Homo sapiens: one gene and its partners. The protein of the gene in region 1 purifies or fractionates together with the protein of each later gene. This does not show direct contact. Each region holds a gene or a part of one and is shown in the gene's direction. Other genes may lie near its edges. The genes, in order: SOCS6, FBXO11, CUL5 and SAV1.

Region 1 (7,033 bases):
TGCCCAGGCTGGAGTGCAGTGGTGTGATCTCAGCTCACTGCAGTCTCTGCTTCCTGGGCTCAAGTGATTCTCCTTCAGCCTCCAGAGTAGCTGGGATTATAGGTGTGAGCCATAATGCCTGGCTAATGTTGATATTTTTAGTAGAGACGGGGTTTCACCATGTTGGCCAGGCTGGTCTCGAACTCCTGGCCTCAAGTGTTCCACCCACCTCAGCTTCCCAGAGTGCTGGGATTATAGGCATGACCAATGGGTTTGAATGTTATAGAGTAAAAAAATTTTGTGTTATGGTTTTAGATTTTACAGGGCAATTTATCATTAAGAAACTATTATTCATTGAGTTTTGATATAGTATCAAAGAAAAATATCCATAGTTATATGAAAAGGTTATTAAATAAAATATATTGTTCCTTTTTCCAACTATGTATCTGGAGGAGGCTGAATTTTCTTCTTACAGGTAGTCCCCTATGCACAGTTTCAATTACCACAGTCGATAGTCATCTGAAGACAGCTAAGTGCAGTACAGTAAGATATTTTGCGAGAGAGAGAGTCCACATTCTCATAGCTTTTATTACAATATTTTGCTATAATTGTTTAATTTTATTATTAGTTATAGTTATTAATCTCTTACTGTACCTAACTTAAAAATTAAACTTTATCATAGGTATGTGTGTATAGGAAAAAAGCAAAGTATACTTGATATAGGGTTCTGTACTATATGTGGTTTCAGGAATCCACAGGGGATCCTGGGATGTATCCCTTGCAGATAAGAGAGGGCTACTGTACTGTAACAGATTCAGTGCAGAAGTAGATATGAGAGTCTAGCTGTCTTCCTTTAGTCAGGCAGAAGAGATTTACAGTAATGTCATGTGGTACCACTTTCACTGATTTTTATTATCATTCATGAAAATGTTATTTATGTTAACATGTAATGAGTATATTGTCATTTTAAAATAAATATAAAATTAGGCTGGGCATAGTGGCTCATACCTGTAATCCCAGCACTTTGGGAAGCTGAGGTAGGAGGATTGCTTGAGGCCAGGAGTTCAAGACCAGCCCGGGCAACATAGACCTCATCTCTACAAAAAGTAGACAAAATTAGCCAGGCGTGGTGGTGCGTGCCTATAGTACCAACTGCTCAGGAGGCTGAGGTGGGAGGATCTCTTGAACCCAGGAGGTTGAGGCTGCAGTGAGCCGAGATCATACCACTGCACTCTAGCCTGGCCAACACAGCGAGACTCTGATTCTGTGTCTTCAATAAATAAATAAATAACAAATTTTCTCAGTTTTTTTTTTTTTTTTTTTTTTTTTTGACAGAGTTTTCGCTCTTGTTGCCCAGGCTGGAGTGCAGTGGCGCAATCTTGGCTCACTGCAACCTCTGCCTCCCAGTCTCAAGCAATTCTTCTGCCTCAGCCTCCTGAGTAGCTGGGATTACAGGCACACGCCACCATGCCTGGCTATTTTTTTTTTTTTTTTTTTGTATTTTTAGTAGAGATGGGGTTTCACCACGTTGGCCAGGCTGGTCTCCAACTCCTGACCTCAGGTGATCCGCCTCGGCCTCCCAAAGTGCTGGGATTACAGAAGTGAGCCATCATGCCCCGCCTCTCGGTTTTATTTTCTAGTAGGGTACATTTCAAGAGATGCAACCCACATAAACAATGCTTCTTCCTGTCTTCCAATAATTTTTAAGAGAATAAAGGGGTTCTGAGACCAGAATGTTTGAGAACCACTGATGTAAGCAGTAGAATGACAGGTAGGACAGGTTGGCATAGGGGAAGAATGTGAGCTTTGCAAATAAACAGCCAGGTTCAGATTCTGGATCTGCTGTTGCTAGTAGCAAATTGTTTAACTTTGTTGGGCAAATTCCAGTCTCTCTGATAACCAGTTTCCTCATTTTATAAAATGGGGATAATAAAGCTGTTTTGTTTATTGAAGGTTAAGTAGTTGTTTGATCTTTTTAATTTTTTCATTATGTGTTATGATGACTGACAGACATGACTACCTCAAGTCATTTAAGAAAAGGTTGAAATTATTTGAAGAAGTTATCCTTTACCCATATGGATAAAGTTTATGTCTAAAGCTTTTTCCCTTGAAACTTTATATACATTTTCAAGTATATGTATAAACTTAAAATTTTACAATTAGAAAAGCAGTAAAACTAATTCAGAACATTTACTTAGGCACGAGACAGATGGTAATCCTATAAAAAGATGGCATATATTTTTGGATGTGCAAACAGAAAAACAGATACTCTTAAAAATTTTAGAGTAATCTTTGCCTAGAATATGAAGGGAAGAGATAAAAGACCATATGGCCTAATAGAACTTTTATAGTTTGTAATGTCTAGGATTGAATTTTGTTTCTTTAATATTAGTATTGATTAATAGCTTACTAATATGGATTGGTAGTTGAAAAAGGAATAATTTTCAAGCAGGTAATTGCCAAGTACTTTTACCGTGGTTGCTAGTCTCTCGTGTTTTGGGGTATGGGTGTGATAGTGGGAAGCACAACTATTTGAATCTCACATTTAGTAGGGTTAATCAGTTACTGATTCTGGCAGTTATAATAGTTCATTATGCTTGGGTAGAAGACATGCTACTAAGACACTGAGTTCACCTAATATACAACTTCATTTATTATTTAAAAGTAACTGGTGCTTCAAATATTTTAAGTTTTTTATTTTTTACAACTTATTCAGAAACATAGTACATGACAGTAGACTTTTAAAAATTGCTTCTTCCTTTTGGGGACATGATAGTACTGATCCCCTGATAGGTTGTCTAATCTGAGTGGTTTTTAGTAAGAATGATTCCATCTGCACACCACCCGAATCCTATCTGTAACTAAAAGGGGACAATTGTCAGGTTCTCTCTCTCCTGTCAGTTCCCACCTTGTGTACCATTATATTACTGAAGGGTTGATACTACAGTTTATCTGTTCATACATCTGTCTCTCCTACTGGATTAGGTGACCATCAGTTATTCATCAATCTGTGTATTGCCACACAGGGCTGAGCCAAGCTGACTCAGCAGAGGCCGAGTAGGGGCTTAGTAAAGGCAGAGTGAATTCATGAATGGGATCAAAGCTAGAGCCATAGTCTTGTGCCAAGAAACTGAGTGGCGCTAAACTGCTGATTTGGGAGGTCAGAATCTTGTTCTGGGCTTTATTAGCATTTCGCTCAAGTCAAGCGAATCACCTTGTCAAGTCATATGCAGAGAAGGCAGAACATGACGTTGGAGGAAAGAAAACATTCTACACAGTTTAAACACAGGGCCTTTGTAAAGTAGTGTTAGGATCACTTAACGTGGTTTATGGAACCAAGATTTTTTGCTGTGAAATGACTTTCAGAAAGTCTTTACAGAATTGAAATCCTGTCATTTCAGTGTAGAACAATGTACAAAAAAAGTTTAGAAAATATATTTCTGGATATAGAAGTAAAAATTTGCCATGGGAAATTGCAAAAAAAGAAGAGTAAGCAATAATAATTCTGGAAATATGTTTCATAATCTTCCAAATAGATCAAAACTAGACACATGGGTTTTTATGGGTGTACTTCAGAGATGAAGCTTTTCAACCTGCGCGCATTGAGCTTCTTCCTCCTCTGTGCATTGGGAACTTGAAGGTAAATGATTCTTGTTCTCAAGGAATTCTCGAGTATAGAGGAACATCTCTAGATAGTTTATTACAGATAATGAAATTCTTTTTGTTTATTTTGACACAAGCTTAAGTATTTAAAATATGCATCAGTTGTTGAGTTGACTAGGCTTGTTATTGCAGTTCTATGGAACGCCTTTACTGTCGTGCCAGGACACAGGCTGGGACATGGCAGGCAGCGGAGGAGCAGTCGGAGTCAGTGCTGAAGGAGTGCACAGGTCTAGCTAGAGTCCAGCTGGGAAGGATGTGGACACTGGCCCACACGTTAGAGTTTATACCAAAAAGCAAGGTGCCAAAAGAACAAAAGGTAGATGCAGGCTTGTTCTTTATAAACATCATCGGGCGGGGCATGGTAGCTCAGCCTGTAATCCCAGCACTTTGGGAGGCCGAGGCGGGCGGATCATAAGGTCAAGAGATCGAGACCATCCTGGCTAACACGATGAAACCCCGTCTCTATTAAAATACAAAAAACTTAGCTGAGTGTGGTGGTGGGCGTCTGTAGTCCCAGCTACTTGGGAGGCTGAGGCAGGAGAATGGCGTGAACCCAGGAGGCAGAGCTTGCAGTGAGCCGAGATCACGCCACTGCACTCCAGCCTGGGCGAAAGAGTGAGACTCATCTCAAAATAATAATAATAATAATAATAAAGTAAACATCATCAAATACTTGCCAAATGCTCATTGTGTAGTAGGCAGTGATCTGCTCTGCTGGGTGCAATAGAAAGAAAGCCCGGTCCTAACAGAGCTGACATTAAGAAAAGACTGGGGTGTTCTCGTTCAGAAGTTAAAGGATTAAAACTGACTAAAACAAAACTTTTGTGGAAATATTTTTTAATATGACTCTTTTTATATTTTTATTTTTTAGAAAATGGCTCCAAAGGTTAAATGAAGCAGGAAAAATACATAGATGCAGCCTTGCAGCCTCTCCAGATGTTTGGGGATAATATTCCAGATAGAAATATTGATCCCTTGGATTAGGTAACTAGTCATAATGAAGAAAATTAGTCTTAAAACCTTACGGAAATCTTTTAACTTGAATAAAAGTAAAGAAGAAACTGATTTCATGGTAGTACAACAACCATCGCTAGCCAGTGACTTTGGAAAAGATGATTCCTTATTTGGTAGCTGCTATGGTAAAGATATGGCCAGCTGCGATATCAACGGTGAAGATGAAAAAGGCGGAAAAAACAGATCAAAAAGCGAGAGCCTGATGGGTACGCTAAAAAGGCGGCTTTCTGCAAAACAGAAGTCAAAAGGCAAGGCGGGCACACCCTCTGGGAGCTCTGCCGACGAGGACACCTTCTCCTCCTCCTCAGCACCCATAGTCTTTAAAGACGTGAGAGCTCAGAGGCCGATAAGGTCCACGTCGCTCCGCAGCCATCACTACAGTCCCGCGCCGTGGCCTCTGCGGCCCACAAACTCCGAGGAGACCTGCATCAAGATGGAGGTGAGAGTCAAGGCCTTGGTTCACTCTTCCAGCCCGAGTCCAGCCCTGAATGGCGTCCGGAAGGATTTCCACGACCTCCAGTCTGAGACCACGTGCCAGGAGCAAGCCAATTCACTGAAGAGCTCGGCTTCTCATAATGGAGACCTGCATCTTCACCTGGATGAACATGTGCCTGTCGTTATTGGACTTATGCCTCAGGACTACATTCAGTATACTGTGCCTTTAGATGAGGGGATGTATCCTTTGGAAGGATCACGGAGCTATTGTCTGGACAGCTCTTCTCCCATGGAAGTCTCTGCGGTTCCTCCTCAAGTGGGAGGGCGCGCTTTCCCCGAGGATGAGAGTCAGGTAGACCAGGACCTAGTTGTCGCCCCAGAGATCTTCGTGGATCAGTCCGTGAATGGCTTGTTGATTGGCACCACGGGAGTCATGTTGCAGAGCCCGAGAGCGGGTCACGATGATGTCCCTCCACTCTCACCATTGCTACCTCCAATGCAGAATAATCAAATCCAAAGGAACTTCAGTGGACTCACTGGCACAGAAGCCCACGTGGCTGAAAGTATGCGCTGTCATTTGAATTTTGATCCGAACTCTGCTCCTGGGGTTGCAAGAGTTTATGACTCAGTGCAAAGTAGTGGTCCCATGGTTGTGACAAGCCTTACAGAGGAGCTGAAAAAACTTGCAAAGCAAGGATGGTACTGGGGACCAATCACACGTTGGGAGGCAGAAGGGAAGCTAGCAAACGTGCCAGATGGTTCTTTTCTTGTTCGGGACAGTTCTGACGACCGTTACCTTTTAAGCTTGAGCTTTCGCTCCCATGGTAAAACACTTCACACTAGAATTGAGCACTCAAATGGTAGGTTTAGCTTTTATGAACAGCCAGATGTGGAAGGACATACGTCCATAGTTGATCTAATTGAGCATTCAATCAGGGACTCTGAAAATGGAGCTTTTTGTTATTCAAGGTCTCGGCTGCCTGGATCTGCAACTTACCCCGTCAGACTGACCAACCCAGTGTCCCGGTTCATGCAGGTGCGCTCGTTGCAGTACCTGTGTCGTTTTGTTATACGTCAGTATACCAGAATAGACTTAATTCAGAAACTGCCTTTGCCAAACAAAATGAAGGATTATTTACAGGAGAAGCACTACTGAAAGATTGAGAACCCTGCATCTTGCACTTTGGGAATAAGAACAAGAGATTGAAATACAGTTTACAAACTTTCATTGCCATCAAAATCTTTTGCTGCCATAACTATTTCAGTTTTATGTGTAAAAGAGTCATCAGTTTGTTTAGGGGTGGGGAAGTGTCAGCAAGGTGTCTTGGGTTTATTTTGGTTCTTTAAAAAAGGGAAGTCTTGAGGTTTTAGAGGTGTGAATTATGTTTCATCAATGTGCAGAATAATCACAATGTGAATTATCAAATTCTCCTCAATGCCCCCCCCGCCCAGTCCTTTGCTGCTATCCACTGTGATTTTTATGCATTAAAAGCACATTTCATGTGTATTCAACCCTAAGTAAAGTTGAATGAAACTTAACAGAATGGAAATTGCTATGTCTTTTTAAATGGTCCATTTTCAAAAGACAGTGTTGAATAAACATACCTGTGTGATAAAACACAGAATTTACATATACACTGAAGATGAGTTTTTAATCTCTTACTTTAAAAAGATTTATTTAGAATCGTGAATTGACATAATCTTGGGTAATGGAACGGAGATCTGCAACATATCTTTTAACAACACTTTTTTCTAAATTATTTCTAAGGTTGTGCTAATTCTTTTGGTTGTGAAAAGTTGAATTTTTCTGTTGCCTTCGTTTTCATCTTCTAGTTTGTCTATTTTAATAAATGGCCTTACATTAAAAAATTGTAAAGAAATGTATACCACCAATTTAGAAATTGTTGCCTTTTCTGTAATTAAACTCGGGTACAAATTGGCA
Region 2 (7,033 bases), on another chromosome or scaffold:
GCAGTGAGCTGTGATCGGGCCACTGCACTCCAGCCTGGGTGACAGAATGAGACCCTATCTCCAAAAAAAAAAAAAAAAGATGTTCATACACCAGACTACCCTCTGACACCCTTTTTAACCTACCTGGTATCTCATGCACTATATTGAGCCGTTCCTCTTCATAGACACACTCCTTGCCAAGCTGCCTTCACCATATATGGTCTCTAACCATGTAGTACCAGTTCCCTTCCCACTCCTCTCAGCAAGTGGATATCCTCCTCACCTTTTTTTAAAAAAAAGTCTTCCACGGCTGGGCGTGGTGGCTCACGCCTGTAATCCCAGCACTTTGGGAGGCCGAGGTGAGTGGATCACGAGGTCAGGAGATCAAGACCATCCTGGCTACCACGATGAAACCCCATCTTTACTAAAAATACAAAAAATTAGCTGGGCGTGGTGGCGGGCGCCTGTAGTCCCAGCTACTCGGGAGGCTGAGGCAGGAGAAAGGCGTGAACCCAGGAGGCGGAGCTTGCAGTGAGCCGAGATTGCGCCACTGCACTCCAGCCTGGGCGACAGAGCGAGACTCTGTCTCAAAAAAAAAAAAAATCTTCCACATTTTATAGAAATCTAACATTTCTTTCATATAGCTATCCAGTTGGTTGGAATTTCATATAAAACTTACATCTGCTCCCTCCCGAATTTGAAGTTTTAAGAAAGTTTTCTGTATCCATAGAACTTTTTTTAAAAAGGGTATAATTTTTCTTATTGCTTTTGTTTATAACAGATGATGATGTGCCTGCAGATATGGTTGCAGAAGAATCAGGTCCTGGTGCACAAAATAGTCCATACCAACTTCGTAGAAAAACTCTTTTGCCGAAAAGAACAGCGTGTCCCACAAAGAACAGTATGGAGGTAACTTTAACTGTAGTTGCTTTTCTTTTTGTAATGAAAGAATTTTCAAGAAACAAAAAAGGGAATGTCATCCTTTTTTAGAAGTAATGATTATGGATGATAAGAATATTTGCTTTACTAGTTTCTGTTTTGTTTTTGAAGGGCGCCTCAACTTCAACTACAGAAAACTTTGGTCATCGTGCAAAACGTGCAAGAGTGTCTGGAAAATCACAAGATCTATCAGGTATTTCCTGTGGGAAAGTAACAAATAGGGTAAAATAATTTTTTTTAATTTTGCTTGATACCAAAAAATGAAAATTAAGTGTATTCGAGTATTACCTTTGGGATTCAGAAAGTGATTATTACAGAATAAACTTTAGAACCCTGACCTCTCCCTCTGACTTTTATTGTTGTATAAAAATGCTTTTTATGTATTTATTTTAACCATTTCTGAGATGGCACATAATACCTAAAAGAAGGAGTACTTTTGTTAGTTCAGGATAGAGATAAATATGTGTTACCCATGAAACCCACATGCTTATAAAATGACCATTATCCAAAAAAAAAAAGCTATTCATTAGATAAAATGAAAACTGTGTTCTTTAAATAATGAGAAAGTTATTGCTCGAATGATAGTTTATATGTTAATCTCTTTATAGCAGCACCTGCTGAACAGTATCTTCAGGAGAAACTGCCAGATGAAGTGGTTCTAAAAATCTTCTCTTACTTGCTGGAACAGGATCTTTGTAGAGCAGCTTGTGTATGTAAACGCTTCAGTGAACTTGCTAATGATCCAATTTTGTGGTAAGTAAAAACCTATTCCTTATTAACTTGAGATATGTTATTTGTTGCCCAAAATGCTAAACATGGTAGGAAAGTCGGTGCGGTGAGTTGGTAGTTACAATTAGTTGGAACAAAATTAAAATGCTTATCAATTCCAAGTTACAAATGGGGGCTGTCAGTCCAGGTGGTATTTATAAATCAGTAAATGAAGTCTTTTATCTGCTGTTTATCAGTTAATAGCAACTGATTGATTATGGGAAATGTTTTTCTTTTAGTAGCTTTTTAGAAACATAACAGTGTAATTTAAAATAGCTAATGAATTTTAAATCTGATAGATTAGAATGTAGGTTTTATATATCACTTTTGGAAAACAGTTGTATTCATGAATCTTTAAATAATTCATGCCCTTTGACCCAGTAATTACTGGGTCATGCCCTTTGACCCAGTAATTCTACTTCTGAAAAGTTTTTTTTGCTTTATGTACAGATTTTTCGTAACAGCCTAGTTAATAATGAGAAAAATTATAAATAATCTAAATATCCAGAATTAAGGGAATGAACTACATAAACTGTGTAATGTGTACTTGGAGAGTTGTGATATAACCACTAATAGTAATTTTTACAAAGAGATTTTCATTTGTTTTTTGAGAGACAGGGTCTTGCTCTGTCACCCAGGCTGGAGTGCAGTGTCACGCTCCTAGCTCACTGCAGCCTCAACCCTCTGGGCTCAAGCCATTCTCCCACCTCAGCCTCCTGAGTAGCTGGCACCACAGGCATGTGTCACCATGCCCAGCTAATTTTTTTTTTTTTTTTTTTTTTGAGACAAAGGGTCTCACTCTGTTACTCAGTCTGATCTTGAACTCCTGGGGTCAAGTGATCCTTCTACCTCGGCCGCCCAAAGTGCTGGGATTATAGGCATGAGCCATTGCACCCAGCCCAGGTTTTTAATAAGATGAAAAAAATGCTGTTATAAAAAGTGAAAAGAGGCCAGGTGTGGTGGCTCCTGCCTGTGGTCCCAGCTACTCCGGAGGCTGAGGCAGGAGGATCATTTGAGCCCAGGAAGTCAAGGCTGCAGAAAGCCGTGATCGTGCCACTGCACTGCAGCCTGGGCGGCAGACGGAGACCCTGTTTTTTAAAGAAAAGAACAGAGTACAAAATTGTATATGCTATATAATCACAACTATAATAAATGATCTGTAGATAAAATGAGTGGAAGCAAATATGGCAGACTGTTAATAGTTAATATATTGAAACTATAGTTCTTTACACTTCTTTGTTTTACAACGGTTATATGTATTACTTTTATGATGCACAAAAGGTGCACCATATATATATATGTTTTTGTTGTTGTTTTTGACGGAGTTTCGTTCTTGTTGCCCAGGCTAGAGTGCAGTGGCACAATCTTGACTCACTGCAACCTCTGCCTCCCGGGTTCAAGCAATTCTCCTGCCTCAGCCTCCTGAGTAGCTGGGATTACAGGCACCTCCCACCATGCCCAGCTATTTTTTGTATTTTTAGTAGAGACAGGGTTTCACCATGTTGGCTAGGCTGGTCTTGAACTCCTGACCTCAGGTGATCCTCCTGCCTGGGCCTCCCAAAGTGCTGGGATTACAGGCATGGGCCACTGTGCCCGGCCCACACCTTACATTTAAGAGAAAAATTACAAAGGAGAAATGAGAATGAAGAGCAGCAGAACAAAACAGCATTGCTCACTGTACCAGAAATGATAATAGTTAGCCATTACTCCAGTTTGAAGATTTCATTGTGCTTGATAGGATATAAATGGACTGAAGATATAGGACAAATTAAGTTCAAAGTATTTTTACTGAAAATTATCTTTTTAGGCTAGGCGAAGTGGCTCACGCCTATAATCCCAGCACTTTGGGAGGCTGAAGTGGGCAGATTACTTGAGCCCAGGAGTTTGAGACCAGCCTGGGCAACATACTGGGACCTCATTTCTACAAAAAAAAATCAAAAAATAAGACAAGAGGATCACTTGAACCTGGGAGGTTAAGGCTGCAATGAGCCATGATCACGCCTCTGCACTCCAGTGTGGGCAACGGGAGTGAGACTCTGTCTCAAAAAGAAAAAGAAAGAAAATTATCTTTTTAAGTGATAATCATGATGTTTTTACAGTAAGGATAACTTTTTTTCCCCTTCCTGAGTAAACAGTTTGTAAGGAAATTGAAACTTTTTGTTGTTCTGTGTGGACAAATTTTCATACGCAGTTACATTGTGAAAATTTTTGCAGGAAAACTAATTTTCGGCCAGGCATGGTGGCTCACGCCTGTAATCCCAGCACTTAGGGAGGCTGAGGTGGGTAAATCACTTGAGCTCCAGAGTTCGAGACCAGCCTGGGTAACATGTGCCTGTAGTTCCAGCTACTTGGGAGGCTGAGGTGGGAGGATCATTTGAGCCCAGGAGGCAGAGGTTGCAGTGAACTGAGATCGTGGCACTGCACTCCAGCCTGGGTGATAGAAATAGACTATGTCTCAAAGAAAAAAAAGGAAAAAAACATAATTTCCATATGCAACTACACTGAAAATTTTAAATGTGAAAAATACGTTTTCACGTTTTAAATCCTGTTTTTAGCTGTGCGTGGTGACACATGCCCATAATCTCAGCTACTCAGGAGGCTGAGGCTTGAACCTGGGAGAGGGAGGTTGCAGTGAGCCAAGATCATGCCACTTGCATTCTAGCCTGGATGACAGTGAGACTGTGTCTCAAAAAAAAAATCCTGTGATTTAATATTCATTTTTGTCTATTCTTACTTTCTTACTCAAGTTTTTGAGGCCTCAAATAATTGTTATAGTTGTTCAAAACTGTATTAATCTAAAGGACATTTTATCAAGAAAATTTTAATTCCTTTCTCTGTTCAGGAAACGATTATATATGGAAGTATTTGAATATACTCGCCCTATGATGCATCCTGAACCTGGAAAATTCTACCAGATTAATCCAGAAGAGTATGAACATCCAAATCCCTGGAAAGAGAGTTTCCAGCAGTTGGTATGAAATATAAATAGAATATATTGGTTTATATTATACATTTGTAAATAACTTTCTTTTAAGAAATAAGTTTAGGCTGGGCGTGGTGGCTCACACCTGTAATCCCAGCACCTTGGGAGGCCGAGGTAGGAGGATTACCTGAGGTCAGGAGTTCGAGACCAGCTTGGCCAACATGGCGAAACTCCATCTCTTCTAAAAATACAAAAATTAGCCGGACATGGTGGCGCACACCTGTAGTCCCAGCTACTTCGGAGGCTAAGGCAGGAGAATCACTTGAACCCAGGAGGCAGAGTTGCAGAGAGCTGACATTGCACTGCTGCACTCCAGCCTGGGCGACAGAGTGAGACTCTTGTCTCAGGGAAAAAAAAAAAGTTGAGTAGGTTTTAATGAACATTTATCAACCAACAGAATATTCAGCAATTCTTTTCACTACTGACATATCCCCCCATTAATAAGTTAGTACAGTAAGCATTAGTAGCCTAAGAGCAGTTGTGATTTCAATGGGTCTGTTTGAACTTGTATTTAAATTATTAGTGTTCAGCATTTGTTTTAAAGTTCCACATTTAGCTTAATTGTTATACGGCCCTTCGTGAGTGAGTCTCAGCTGGAGATGATTTTGCTTTCTGTGGGACATTTGGCGATGTCGGGAGACATTTTTTGATTGTCACAATGGGAGGAGAGTGTGCTGCTGCTATTTGGCTGGGTGAGGCCAGGGATACCTCTAAACATCCTACAGTGCACAGGACAGCCCCCATAACAAAGAATTAACTGACTTAAAATATCAGTAATGCTGAGATTGAGAAACCCTGTTCTTTGTTTCTGGATATTACCGGATCATAACTTGTTTTAGATTTTACATTGTACTCTGACAGAAAATTATTTGGAATAGTTGAGAATTATTTTTGATTTGTAATAAAAGTTGTTCATGCAATTGTACATTAATTTAAATATAAGGTTTATGTTAGTAGTCAATGGTTTTGTTTTGTTTTTGACATTTTAGTATAAAGGTGCACATGTAAAGCCAGGATTTGCTGAACATTTCTACAGTAACCCTGCAAGATATAAAGGAAGAGAAAATATGTTGGTATGTTTGATTTTTATTTTTATGACTTAAAATGGTAATCTTTCAGTTCTGTACTGACACATTTATTTTTTTCTAGTATTATGATACTATTGAAGATGCCCTTGGTGGGGTACAAGAGGCTCATTTTGATGGACTTATCTTTGTTCATTCTGGAATATATACTGATGAATGGATATATATTGAATCTCCAATCACCATGATTGGTGCAGGTATTTTGAAATGCATTGTCATTAAAATTTTAATATTTTACTCATTTATGTGATAGGATTTTAAAAATGCTAGTGACTTAAAATCCAGTTTTATAATATCCTGCTGGTAAAGTAGGAATGAAGATATCACACATATTTTAAGTGAAGGAAGTGAAAACATAAGAGTTCAGAAATTATAGCTGTATATAAATTCTTTCTCCCCGCCCCCCCCAACCTTTTTTGTTTTTTTGATGCAGAGTCTAGCTATGTCACTCAGGCTAGAGTGCAGTGGCACAATTTCAGTTCACTGTAACCTCTGCCTCCTGGGTTCAAGCAATTCTCATGCCTCAACCTCTCAAGTAGCTGGGATTATAGGCATGCACCACCATGCGTGGCTAATTTTTGTATTTTTAGCAGAGATAGGGTTTCGCCATGTTGGCCAGGCTGGTCTCAAACTCCTGGCCTCAAGTGATTTGCCCATCTCGGCCTTCCAAAGTGCGGGGATTACAGACATGAGCCACTGTGCCTGGCTGTATATGTTTCCTAATGTTAGTACTTTCTCCATTTGCCTTGAGTTATTCATTAAACGAAGAAAAATAGCTTTTTCATCTTTTATTTGAAAATAAAGATGCAGCCAGGTGTGGTGGCTCACACCTGTAAACCCAGTAGTTTGGGAGGCTGAGGTGGGTGGATCGCTTCAGGTCAGGAGTTAAAGACTGGCCTGGCCAACATGGTGAAACCCCATCTTTACTAAAAATACAAAAAAAATTAGCCAGGTGTGGTGGTGTGCACCTGTAATCCCAGCGACTCTGGAGGCTGAGGCAGGAGAATTGCAAAGAAAGATGCTAATATTTCTATTGCTATGTTTTTAAAGGAACTGAAATAGAATTTTTAAATACTTTTGTACTATTTCAAAGCTATTTATGGTCAGGTTTCTAAGAATAAATGTAATATCTGTCAAACACTGAGTCATTTGAAGATTTGTGGTTTTTTTATTTTGAGGATACAGTACATAGAACATTTTAAGATAGCTAGTAATTATTATTTGCTAGTGAAATTTGCATTTACAGCCTCTTTTGCTTTCTTCCTCTATCTCCTCATGA
Region 3 (5,397 bases), on another chromosome or scaffold:
CAGGCTCAAGCAATCCTCTTTCTTCAGCCTCCTGAATAGCGGGGACCACAGACACACGCCACCATGCCTGGCTAATTTTTGTATTTTTTATAGAGATGGGGTTTCGCCATGTTGCCCAGGCTGTTCTCAAACTCCTGGACTCAAGCAATCCACCCACATCACCCTCCCAAAGTGCTAAGATTACACACATGAGCCACCACACCCGGCATATACATGCCTTTTGTTGGGTAAAGAGAGAGCTGGTACTGGAAAAGGTAAAAGAGAAAAGAATATTTAATGATTTTCTGATAACTCTTATTGTAAACTTAACAGTAATTAAGGAAATCATCAAGAAAAATTTTGATAAAATGACCTAGATGAAAAAGATTTATTTCTTTAGAAACTTAAAAGTGACTGGGCATCGTGGCTTACACCTGTAATCCTAGCACTTTGGGAGACCAGGGCAGGGGAGTATTTGAGTCTGGGGGTTCAAGACCAACCTGGACAACATAGCAAAACCTTGTGTCTGTATTTAAAGAGAAGAAGGGGAAAAAAAAAACCTTAAAAACATTTAATTGAGTCAATATAAACTGAAGATAATATTTGTAGCAAATATAATTAATTAATCTGGTAAATATATAAAGAGTACTACTTAATGACTTTTAAAACAGACCCCACCTGACCTGTACTGCTATACAAAGAAATAACTGAATACAAGGGAAAAATTTGGTGTAAGGGGTTTGTTATATTTTAATTAATGTTTAACATGATACCAGGTTATATACACATTGTTTTCACAGGTAAGATAACTTTTAAGAATGTGAATGGCATGGGAAAAAAGGAATTGAAGGAAATAATATTAAAACATTAGGTGTAGTTTTCTTTCAGCAGAGAAGCAGAGGTAATTTTGCTTTTCCTTATTTTTCAAAATCTCTATAGTCAGATTTTTTTTAAATACATACTTTAAGTTCTGGGATACATATGCAGAATGTGCAGGTTTGTTACATGGGTATACACGTGTCATGGTCATTTGCTGCACCCATCAACCCGTCATCTACATGAGGTGTTTCTCCTAATGCTTATCCCTCCCCTATCCCCCCACCCCAATAAGCAGATTCTCTTTTATGGGGCATGAGAAAACAAAAGATGTTTTTATTTGTTAAGTAAAAGATACTAGTCTCAACATTAATCCCCTAGTGATTATTATTCATTTGGGTAGATGTTGGATAGAGGATGAATATGCATAAAAAGTCATTTTTCAGTTTGTTGTACTTAAAATAATTTCGTATATTAATGCGCTTTTATTTTTATTTTTTCTTTTAGGAAGCTATCATACAAATAATGAAAATGAGAAAGAAAATTAGTAATGCTCAGCTGCAGACTGAATTAGTAGAAATTTTGAAAAACATGTTCTTGCCACAAAAGAAAATGATAAAAGAGCAAATAGAGTGGCTAATAGAGCACAAATACATCAGAAGAGATGAATCTGATATCAACACTTTCATATATATGGCATAATTTTGAATATCATGGACAATATTTAGAACCCAAATTTTGGAGTGCTTGGGCAGAAAGTTGTAAAGTTTGTGCTGGAGAAAGGTTTATTTGGACTTTGATTACATAAATATTAAAATCTCTGCCTTACCTTACAAAAACAACTATATTTTGCCAATCACATTAGTTAGCATGATGGCATTCCCTTCATGTTGCACACTCTTTGACAGCATGCTGTTTTGTGGAGAAACTTGCATTCATGAAGAGCCCATTATCAACTTTTAAAAGTGAATTTGATTTGTACCCACCAGGAGAAATACAGTTGGGAAGGGTGAGGGTGGGGTTCTTGTTGCTTTTTTCTCTTTTTTCCTCTCTTAAAAAATGTACTTGCACAAGGAAGGATCTTCAGATATTCATGCACTGAAAAATGCTGTTATCTTTTGTTTTTAAAAAATGCAATTAAAACTAGAAATAGCACTCTTGGTTTCTTTTGATGAAAAGAGTGAGCTGGTCAATGCAACATTGGGAAACGGCAGATGTAGGTGAGAAGTTAAGTATTTAATAGTATCAAATTGTTCAAACATTGCTCAGTATAATAACTGGATTTTAATGGTGACCTAAAAATGGTATTAAATATTTTCAACTTTCAAATGTTGGTTTTCTTTAAGCAGGAGACTGCTATTTTAGTTGTTGTTAAATGATGAGGAGTTTTTTTTTTTTTAAATATGGCTGGAAAGCTTGTTTTGAAAAATGAAGCTTATATTAATTGTTGCTTCAATAGTTTAAAAAATTTATGGAGATAGGTAGGTCATTATGATTGCAGAGCCAAAATAGCAAAACAAACATATTAAGTGTGTTTACTAAACATATTGTGTGTTTACTAACACACTTAATGTTTATATACCTAATATTTATTATGCCATATCTGAATTTATTAAAAACAACACAGAAATCTCCTGCTCTGATATAGTTATGTAACTGATCTCTTAATCTGTAGCATAGAAGTATTTTGGTATTTTAAGGTCTCATGATTAGGGATTTGTAGCCTCAGGTTTGAATCAGTCACCTAGGGGTAAGAGAAAAACCACAACATAAGACCTGAAAAACAGAAGCAAAATTGTTGCACTCTTAATACGAGCAGTAAACTTGCCAAATATATGTACATATATATTTATATATTTTAAAAATAAACATTTTTTAAATCGTCAGAAGGCAACATTTACCATGTTCCTTTCAGTCTATCCAAAGTAGCAACTTAACTAGTTGCTGGCAACTGAATACCCAGAGTAGTGGAAATTTTAGGACTTGAGGACGTGAACAACTTGAAAGAGAAAATTGATTCCCCTTGAGGAAAGAATGGCTCAACGTGGATTTTTATTCATTGTGGTGCACGTTTCAAATTTTCTTGCAAATTATTTTATATCTTATTTGATGTTAAGTAATATTTTTAAAGTATGGTTTTTGAAGATAGTAGGAAATGGAGTACAGAAAGGCATACAGTATTATGTTACAGTGGAGTGCTTTCAAGAGCATTTCGTAGGATCTGTCCCCATCCGAAGAGGCTTTGTGAACTGCCTGCTGAATGGAAGGAAAGCAACTTTAAAACATTTAGAGTTTTGCTGAGTATAGCCAAATGCCTGTTCTGAAACTTATAGGAAATTGGAATTTTGTTTAAAATTTTACACTTTAAGGTAGCAAATGTCAATTATTAGACCGAGCATATTGTGAAGAATTAAACTAAAATTAATACGTACAGTTTTCTCTAATTAGGTGACTGTTCATAATGGGTATATTTGGAATTTAGAAGAAATAATTTTGTAGTAATTGTGGCCCTTATGTTTAACAGATAATTCAGCATTGGCGTATTTGCTTGTCCCAATACAAGAATGCCAAAGGAGGAAACAGGAAAAATTGCCGTCCATTTTAAAAATTTAGGTTTGTTGTTTTAAACCATAATTGTTCTCAGAACTTTTTTGGAACTTCTAATTTTGGGTCATTTAATTTAAGAATGAGAGTCATGATGTTTTGATTTATGAAGGTGAATTTAATGCAAAAGTGGGTAACACTACATTCATAGCAAAGTTTTTTATTAAATTTTATAAATTTTTAATAGCCAATTATGTCCTAATTGTATTTTGGGGAATGAACAGCAGCAAATACTGTAAATGTACAGTTTTCTTTTTTTTTTTTTTTTGGTTATGTATACAAAAGTTTTAACTACTTTTTGGTGTTTATGAAAATCATTTAGTTGACAAGGTGCCTATGCCATTGTTAAATTTTCTTTAAGTAATTTAACAACAGATTTGCTAATTTAAAAAAAAATGAAAAAAAAAATCTTACCAGCAGTTTGTAAAGGTCTGGAATCACAGTTGGCATCCTTTATTCAGGTCTCTTCTCTCCAGCGTACACTTAAAATTGGTGCCGAGCAGGGATATAACCTGCAGTTAAGTGAAAAGAAAATCCAGCCTCCCCCTCCAAAAAAAAAAAAAAAATTTAATTTTTAAAAATTAGTGGTATGGCAATAAGACACTTCAGAGGCTATCTTAACCTCTGAATACCCATCTTCTAGTTTAAAGACAGAGACATCCCATCTGGAAAATGTTAACTTGTGTTGCCATCTCGTTGCCGGAGTAAGTAGACATAAGACAGAGTTTAAGAAGTAAAAATATAGAAAAATTTTGATGGTCACAATGAGATAAATATTAGAATATTACTATTCCAATGATTAAATGAGGATCTTGAAATAAATTCTGAAGTCTTCCAATTTTTACATTTATTGGAGGGGTCCCTGAGTTCTGTCAACTTTTTTATTTAAGTCTCTTGCTCTTATTTTGTGCATAAATGTTAAACCTTCCAAAAATGAAATGTTAGCTTTCTTTCTTTTACTTTTTATTAAATTTAATAGAAAATATGACCTGAGTAGTTAAAAAGTATTTTGCATTATTTGCAGTAAGATGTCTCTAGCACTGCTCAAAGGGCAAATTTTAAAACTTCAGTCTGGGTGAAAGATTTGCTAGTTTTACAGAAAGATTTGCTATCTTAAACTCAAGCTGGTTTTTCTGTTCTCATGTAAGTGACTGGGATGCTGTCTTATGAATTCTTCCAAGGTCATGTTTGTGAAATAAACATTACATGAGAGCTTTCCTGTCATCTACACTATATGTTGTCTGGAGTGTTGAACAAATTTATTTTAGTTTCTAAGTTGTAATCTATCCTCATATGGTCTATACGATTTTGAATGTGTGCCACTACATACTGAGATGATAATGCTGTACAATTTTAAGTGGTAGCAGTTTCTGTATGCAGTAGGCTGAAATATTTTGATGAACTGCTTAATTTTTGGATTTTATTTTTTAAGTTGTATAATTTATTTTCTTGCAAAATAAAAATGTAATATAAAAGCTTTTACCTATCCAGAAAATGTTGATGTTCTACTATAAAATAGTTACAAAGAGTTTAATTAAAATTTTTATAGTAGGTATATTTTTAAATTTGAAGGTAAATTAATCTCAGCCAGCCTTAGGAATCAGAAATATGAAAAGTAACCCACTTATTTATATTAGACTTCAAATTCTAATTCAAAATGAGAGCAGTCAGGAATGTAGCTTTTCCACTGATGATAGCATGTGGCTATATGCCTGGAAGAGGTAATAAAAAAAAAAAAATTCCAACCTGAAAGTGGTTAATATATTCATCAACTAAGATAGGCTATGTCATAACAAAATTCAAATTTTATAGCAGATAAAAGTAAAAAATGGGCCGGGCTCAGTGGCTCACGCCTGTAATCCCAGCACTTTGGGAGGCCAAGGTGGGTGGATCACCTGAGGACAGGAGTTCAAGACCAGCCTGGCAAACATGGTGAAACCCTGTCTCTACTAAAAATATAAAAATTAGCCGGGTGTAGTAGCGCGCGCCTGTAGTCCC
Region 4 (7,033 bases), on another chromosome or scaffold:
ATGGAGACTCTGGTTCCCGATATTATTATTCAGACAATTTTTTTGATGGTCAGAGAAAGCGGCCACTTGGAGATCGTGCACATGAAGACTACAGATATTATGAATACAACCATGATCTCTTCCAAAGAATGCCACAGAATCAGGGGAGGCATGCTTCAGGTAGCTTAACATTATAAATAATATAGTAGTTTATATTTATTGACATGTCAATTAAAAAGATGTTCTTTTCTAGATTTTCTTGGGACACGAACAAATACTACTAGCGAAATGTTTTTCCACTTTGCTCATCCTGCTTAAGCCTGTGTGCAAATAGTTGTTAATCTACACTGAATGGAAGAGTCCTTGTGACCATTTATTTTATTAACTCATGTTATGTAAACTTGGTATTTATCTCAAGGCTGTCTAGACTCTTAATGCTGTGACCCTTGAAAACCTAGAGAATTTAATGTCTCCAGTTGGGCTGAATTTAGGTTTAGGTTTGGTAGAATAATGGGAAGGGTAAGTCTTCAGAGACACTTGACGGAGTCCTCAGAGACACTTGACAAACTTGGGAAAGGAAAGAAGAGTAGGAACAACTGGGCATGCTCAGTGATACCCTGAGCAACCACATTACTTCGCTAGATCCTGCCCTTTTTCTCAACAAAAAGTAGTTCAAGAATTATTTCCTGAGTTGATCAAAAAGACTTATTGTCATATGGTTAATTATGTGTTGAGCATGTCTTTTTATTATTTTTGTAACAGACAAAAAAAATTACCATATAATTTAAGAAAAGAAGGTACTTTCCATATCTCCTGAGTTGGAGATACTTCTGAAAGGAGCAGAAGAGATGGGAGAAATGTACAATTCTACTTTATTCCTGAAGTCCTGGTTTTACCAGATAAAATGAAGTGAGATGAAAATTAAACTTTCTTGTCTGATTTTTTTTTTCTACCAAGTTATAGACTTTAAATTTTGGCAGGATAAAAATAAAATGTGAGACAGATTTACTTTTTGGCTCACATAACTTCAAATAAGGCGACTTAAAAATGGTTTGGAGCATTAGTATTTTGACTGTAGAAAAAATTTATTCATTTAATATTAACTGTTTATGTGTCTAGCGTTTTCCTTGGGTCTGTTGGTCTCTGCTTTCTGGTACCTTATTTGTCTAGTACCTTATTTGTGGAAACAAAACCAATCTATACACAATGGTCACAGAAAAATTGTTATACTTTGTGATACTAACTGTAAGTGCAACAGGGAATCAGAAGAGAGATGAGTATAGGCTGGAATACTTAAAGAGATGATTCATGGAAGAGGTAGGACTTGGAGTGGGCCTTGAGCTTGGCCTTTAGATTAACAAGGGCCAGAAGAAGGACATTTTACGTGGAAAATTGGGAATAGCACAATGAAAACAGAGTAGGCATGGTTTAAATATAAGGAACAGTGTAGTTCTGCCTGGTTTGAAGAAATAAGATGTAAGGTTGAGTGGAGATTTGTGGTTCAACAATAGGCTTAGATTTGAGTCAAGTGGAAGCTCTTGCACATTTCGGAAAGACAAGTGATTTTATGAAAGCAGTGTTTAAAGATTAGTTTTGTACTAGAATTAAGGGTAGATTCCTAGAGAAAAGAGGATTGCAGGTACCAGTGGGTACCAGTGGTAATAGGAAAACGCAAATCTAGGATGCTTTTAAAGGAAAAATGAGAATTAGAGTTTAGGAGAAAGCAGATCACTGAAGTTTTAAAAATAATGTGGAATAGTTGGTAAGAACAACTTATTTTATGAAAGCTGACATCAGAGTCTCACTGGAACATTGTAGAGGAGAGGTTTTCTAGGCATGTGGAAATGCAGTAAGAGGCATGGGTAAAAGCACCTTTTAGTTTTTAAGGAATTAGGTTAAAGAATTAGCTGCATGCTTGAGTGTTTATTTTGGTTATTTCTGATATGCAGTTCTGAACCTCAGGAATAATTTGTTATCTAACTAAAATAGTAAGTTTTAAAAATAAAGCTCATTTATATTTTCTTCTAGAATAATAACTGCTTATTACAGGAAATTTGCAAAATGCAGAAACGTAAAGGCAAAGTACCTGTCCACCAGAGATCCTCTTAGTATGTTATTTTCTTCATCTTTTTCCATGCCAAATTCTTTTTTTACATGGATGTGATTATATAATATTTTGTACAGTTTTCTGTTCTTTTTACTTGAATGATTTTCTTCATGTTGTATACTTTTTATGAGTGGTTTTAATGACTGCGTAATCTTCCATTTGGTGCATATTCAGTGGTTAATGAGGACTTGACCTATACTTCAGAAATTTGGAAAGAGGAGAAGTGGGACACGCCCACATTAATGGGACTTGGCCACTAACGGGGTTTGAAGGACAAAGGAGAGGGAAGAGTCAGATAGGATTAGCACAGCACATGACTGCCTAAGAGATGCTCACAAAAATAAATGGCTGAATGAGTGAATGAACCCAGCGGTTTTAAATCTGGAGGCTTAAGACAGTTTTTGGTAGCTGAGGGAGAACAGAAATAGCTATGTTTACTGTTAATATAGAATATGTGTTATTCTTTGCGTTCACCTTTCCCACCTATATTGTAGACGTCACTGATAGCTTGTAATACTTTTCTACCTGAGGTTTAAGTATGTAAATATGAGGAATTAATAACAAGTTAAACTCTTGTTTTGAAAATCTAATTTGCCAAATATAATTGAGGAAATACTATAAGAACTAAATCTCTACTGATCCTCTCTTAGGAGCAATTTGAGATAATTTTTCTAAGTTTAAAGACAGACTTTAAAGCAACTTTCCAGTCACAACTTCAAAATAAAGTACAAGTTAATTGCATACGTTTTCAGATTCAAGTATGTCATTAAAAAAATAAGATTTCAGGCTGGGCACGGTGGCTCACGCCTGTAATCCCAGCACTTTGGGAGGCCAAGGAGGGTGGATCACGAGGTCAGGAGATTGAGGCCATCCTGGCTAACACGGTGAAACCCTGTCTCTACTAAAAATAAAAAAATTAGCCGGGCGTGGTGGCAGGCGCCTGTAGTCCCAGCTACTTGGGAGGCTGAGGCAGGAGAATGGTGTGAACCCGGGAGGCGGAGCTTGCAGTGAGCTGAGATTGCGCCACTGCACTCCAGCCTGGGCAACAGAGTGAGACTCCGTCTCAAAATAAATAAATAAATAAATAAATAACAAGATTTCAAAACACTGATGAAAGAAATTGAAGAGCACAAAAACAAATGGAAAGACATCCCATGCTCATGGGTCAGAAGAATTAACATCATTAAAATGACCATGTTGCTCAAAGTAATCTACAGATTGAATGCAATCCCTATTAAAATACCAGTCATTTTTCACAGAAATAAAACAATCCTAAAATTTCCACAGAACCAACAAGGAGCCCAAATACCCAAAGTAATCCTGAGCAAACCGAACAAAGCTAGAAGCATCACACTACCTGTCTTCGAAATAAGGCTATAGTAACCACATACAAGGTTATAGTAACCACAAATAAGGCTATAGTAACCACAATAATATGGTATTGGTATAGAAAGACACATAGACCAATGGAACAAAAATAGGTAATGCAGAAATAAATCCACATATTTACAGCCAACTGATTTTTTTACAAAAGCACCAAGAACGTGCATTGGGAAAAGGACACTTTCTTCAATAAACGATGCTGGGAAAATTGGATATCCACATGCAGAAGAATGAAATCTGACCCTTGTCTCACCATATGCAAATTCAACTTGAGATGGATTAAAGACTTAAGACCTGAAATTATAAAAGTACTAGAAGAAAATGTAGGGGAAACACTTCAGGACATCGATCTAACAAAGATTTTATGGCTAAGACCTCAAAAGCACAGGCAACAAAAACAAATAGACATATGGGACTATATTAAACCAAAAGGCGTCTGCACAGTAAAGGAAACAACAGAATGAAGAGACAACATATTGAATAGGAGAAAGTGTTTGCAAAAGATTCATCCAGCAAGGGACTAATATCCAGAATATGCAAGGAAGCCAACAGTAAGAAAAACAACCCCATTAAAAAGTGGGCAAAGGACATGAATAGACGTTTCTCAAAAGAAGACATACAAATGGCCAAAAGGTATGTGAAAAAATGTGCAACATCACTAATCGTCAAGGAAATGTAAGTGAAAACCACAGTGAGGTGTCTTACCCCAGTCAGAATGGCTATTGTTAAAAAGACAAAAAAATATACTACTGGTGAGAGTGTGAAGAAAAGGCAACTGTTACAGACTGTTGGTGGGAATGTTACAATAATTAGGACAGGCACTATGAAAAACAGTTTGGAAATTTCTCAGAAAACCGAAAACAGAACTACCATATGATCCGGCAGTTCCACTGCTGGGTATCTATCTAAAGGAAAAGAAATCAGTATATCAAAGAAATACCTGCACTCCCATGTTTATCATGTCATTTGCAGCAGCTTGAATGGAACTGGAGGTCATTATATTAAGGGAAATCAGGCACAGAAAGAGAAGTGTCTCATGTTCTTACTCACATGTGGGAGCGAAACACATTGATTTCATGGAGATAGAATGATAGCAGAGGTTGGGAAGGATGGGAGGGGAGGTAAAGAGAGGTAGGTTAATGGGTCCAAACATAAAGTTAGATGGAATAAGTTCTAAGGTTTGATAGCAGAGTAGGGTAACTACAGTTAACATTTTGAAATAGCTAAAAGAGAGGACTTGAAATGTTCCCAACACATAGAAATGATAAATACTCACGGTGATGGATACCCTAAATACCCTGACTTGATTATTTCATACTCTTTGCATGTATCACAATATCACATGTACCCCATAAACATGTGCAAATAATTATGTATCCAAAAAATGCTATAAAACAATGTTACCACCTGACTGGGCTCTTGTCTGCTATCCGAATAGAGCAGAACACTGAGACAGCAGATACTGTAAAGAAGAAAGAGTTTAATTATTGCAAGGCAGCTGAGTAAGGAGGATGGGAAATGTTTCTCAGAGTCATCACCGCCAAGACTGGAGAAGCTAAGATATTTAAAGATGATTTGGCAGGCAGGGGGCTAGGGGATGGGTGCTGGTGATTGGACTGGTATGAGATCATAGGGTTATCAATGCTGTCTTCATGTGCTGAATCAGTTGCTGGGAAATTGGGGAGTCACAAGACCAAGTCAGTTCCTTGGTTGAGTTCATGGAACACTGGTCCATTTGGTGTCAGTTGGTCCACTTGTAAGCAAAGTCTGAAAAATATCTCGAAGACCAGTCTTAGGTTTTACAGTAGTGTTTGTGACTGCCAGTTACTATGGAAAGAAAGCTGGGAAAAAATGGCAGGTTACTGTTTAAACCTATAGCTTAGCAGAAGAGTTTGCAGGAGGTGAGATCACCAGTGATCAAAGTGGCCTGGCCTGTTTGGCCAGTCCAAATTCTGGAAACTATCAAGGGGGTCTGTGTGATCTAGGATCATTGTTTTCTTGTTCTTCTCTTCTATTTTCTTTTTTGAGACAGGATCTTGCTCTGTTGCCCGGGCTGTAGTGCAGTAGCATGATCACAGCTCACTGCAGCCTCGACCTCGGGCTCAAGCAATCCTCCCACCTCAGCCTCCTGAGTAGCTGGGACTACAGGCATGCACCACCACACCTGGCTAATTTTTTGTATTTTTAGTAGAGACTGAATTTCAGTGTTGCCCAGGCTGGTCAAACTCCCAAGCTCAAGCAATCTGCCTGCCTTGGCCTCCCAAAGTGCTGGGATTACAGGCATGTGCCGCAGCACCCAGTCTGGATTATTGTTCTTTAAAAGAAACAGGTTTGTTAATCTTATGGGCAGCCTGCCCAGGGGCTGCCACAGGAAGACAATTATTAGTGACTGCCATTTGTTGAAATGACTTTGCAAGCAGTCATACATGGAGGTGGAAAAAGAGAAGGAAAATATTTTATCAAAATTCGGGCCCCTACCGTAATTTTAATCTTGAGGGTGTTTTTAATTTTATGAGGGAGGCTTCAGCAGGAGTCAGCAAGCTACACCCATAGGCCAGATAGACTTGCCTCCTGCAATACAGTAGTTTTATTGGAACACACATGCACTGAAATAAGATTTGATTTCATGGAATAGCCAAGACCTTGTTTTAATGAGACAGTAGACTTCTGCCTTCGAAGTCTCATCCCAGGCTCTTTTATATCAGATTGCGTTAGGTTTAAAGAAGGTTGCAGGTAGTTGAAGAATCTCAGGTAATAAGGTATCTCTCCCAACCAAAAAAAAAAAAAAAAAAAAATTCTTTACAGCAGTTGATACACTGCTTGAGAGCTTGAGAGACTTCATTTGATAAGATTAATTTTTATCAGGGCAATATAGATTTAATGTTTTACCTTGTAGAAAAAAGTAGTACTTTTTTTGAAGGAATCTCTAAAGTTGCAGGGAAAGATTAATAACCAATTACATGCCAAACAGAAAAGCCTAATAACTGCCTCTTCCACAAGGGAAAAATCTGAATATGAGACAGTAGCTGAAAGTTTCTTGAATTCACCTTGAGAAGACTTAAAACATATTTTTAGGATTTATGCTGAATAAGGTTCAAGGAATTTGAATGAATAGAAAGGAGAAAGTAAGTTTGTAGGAGGATAGGATAGGTTTGTGCGATAGATCTATTTTCAGAAACATTGAATTTTGATTGTCATAAGCATAAAAAGGTTGGAAAATTTGTTTTGTAATGACTTAATGGCAATAGTAATTCCTGTCAATTAGTTATTAGATTTTCAGGAAACACCTTGTGTCAAGGGTTAAATTCAGCTTATTGTATTTAGTAGAAGCACAAAAACAAGTTGTATAATCTCAGAAAGTTTTAGAGCCTAGAAAGTTCTACGTTTAGCTGTAGAACTTTCAGATTAGAAAATTTGACCTTTAATGTTCTTGGCCGCATACCAGTCACGCACTTACTGTATGTTCCAAAGAAAGGAATCCTGCTGTTAACAGGAAGTCTTTAGTTGGAATACTAAAGGCAGACTGAATTCCTTTGTTTTGCGCTTAAATTTTAGTTCTGTCTC

Evidence for each region.
Region 2: the proteins of SOCS6 (region 1) and FBXO11 purify together in Homo sapiens (affinity purification with mass spectrometry; 3 studies listed by BioGRID and IntAct, with this or other methods). This does not show direct contact.
Region 3: the proteins of SOCS6 (region 1) and CUL5 purify together in Homo sapiens (affinity purification with mass spectrometry; 7 studies listed by BioGRID and IntAct, with this or other methods). This does not show direct contact.
Region 4: the proteins of SOCS6 (region 1) and SAV1 purify together in Homo sapiens (affinity purification with mass spectrometry; 3 studies listed by BioGRID and IntAct, with this or other methods). This does not show direct contact.

The regions. Positions count from the first base shown.
Region 1 is NC_000018.10:70,320,030-70,327,062, forward strand, and holds part of SOCS6 (suppressor of cytokine signaling 6), read left to right. Parts: intron 1-1,573; exon of another isoform or gene 1,574-3,619; intron 3,620-4,513; 5' UTR 4,514-4,639; coding exon 4,640-6,247; 3' UTR 6,248-7,033. UniProt on the Homo sapiens protein: SOCS family proteins form part of a classical negative feedback system that regulates cytokine signal transduction.
Region 2 is NC_000002.12:47,833,497-47,840,529, reverse strand, and holds part of FBXO11 (F-box only protein 11), read left to right. Parts: intron 1-760; coding exon 761-888; intron 889-1,029; coding exon 1,030-1,111; intron 1,112-1,526; coding exon 1,527-1,671; intron 1,672-4,528; coding exon 4,529-4,658; intron 4,659-5,658; coding exon 5,659-5,742; intron 5,743-5,818; coding exon 5,819-5,951; intron 5,952-7,033. UniProt on the Homo sapiens protein: Substrate recognition component of a SCF (SKP1-CUL1-F-box protein) E3 ubiquitin-protein ligase complex which mediates the ubiquitination and subsequent proteasomal degradation of target proteins, such as DTL/CDT2, BCL6, SNAI1 and PRDM1/BLIMP1.
Region 3 is NC_000011.10:108,102,888-108,108,284, forward strand, and holds the end of CUL5 (cullin-5), read left to right. Parts: intron 1-1,302; coding exon 1,303-1,497; 3' UTR 1,498-3,319; coding exon of another isoform or gene 3,320-3,400; 3' UTR 3,401-4,874; downstream 4,875-5,397. UniProt on the Homo sapiens protein: Core component of multiple cullin-5-RING E3 ubiquitin-protein ligase complexes (ECS complexes, also named CRL5 complexes), which mediate the ubiquitination and subsequent proteasomal degradation of target proteins.
Region 4 is NC_000014.9:50,658,305-50,665,337, reverse strand, and holds part of SAV1 (protein salvador homolog 1), read left to right. Parts: coding exon 1-159; intron 160-7,033. UniProt on the Homo sapiens protein: Regulator of STK3/MST2 and STK4/MST1 in the Hippo signaling pathway which plays a pivotal role in organ size control and tumor suppression by restricting proliferation and promoting apoptosis.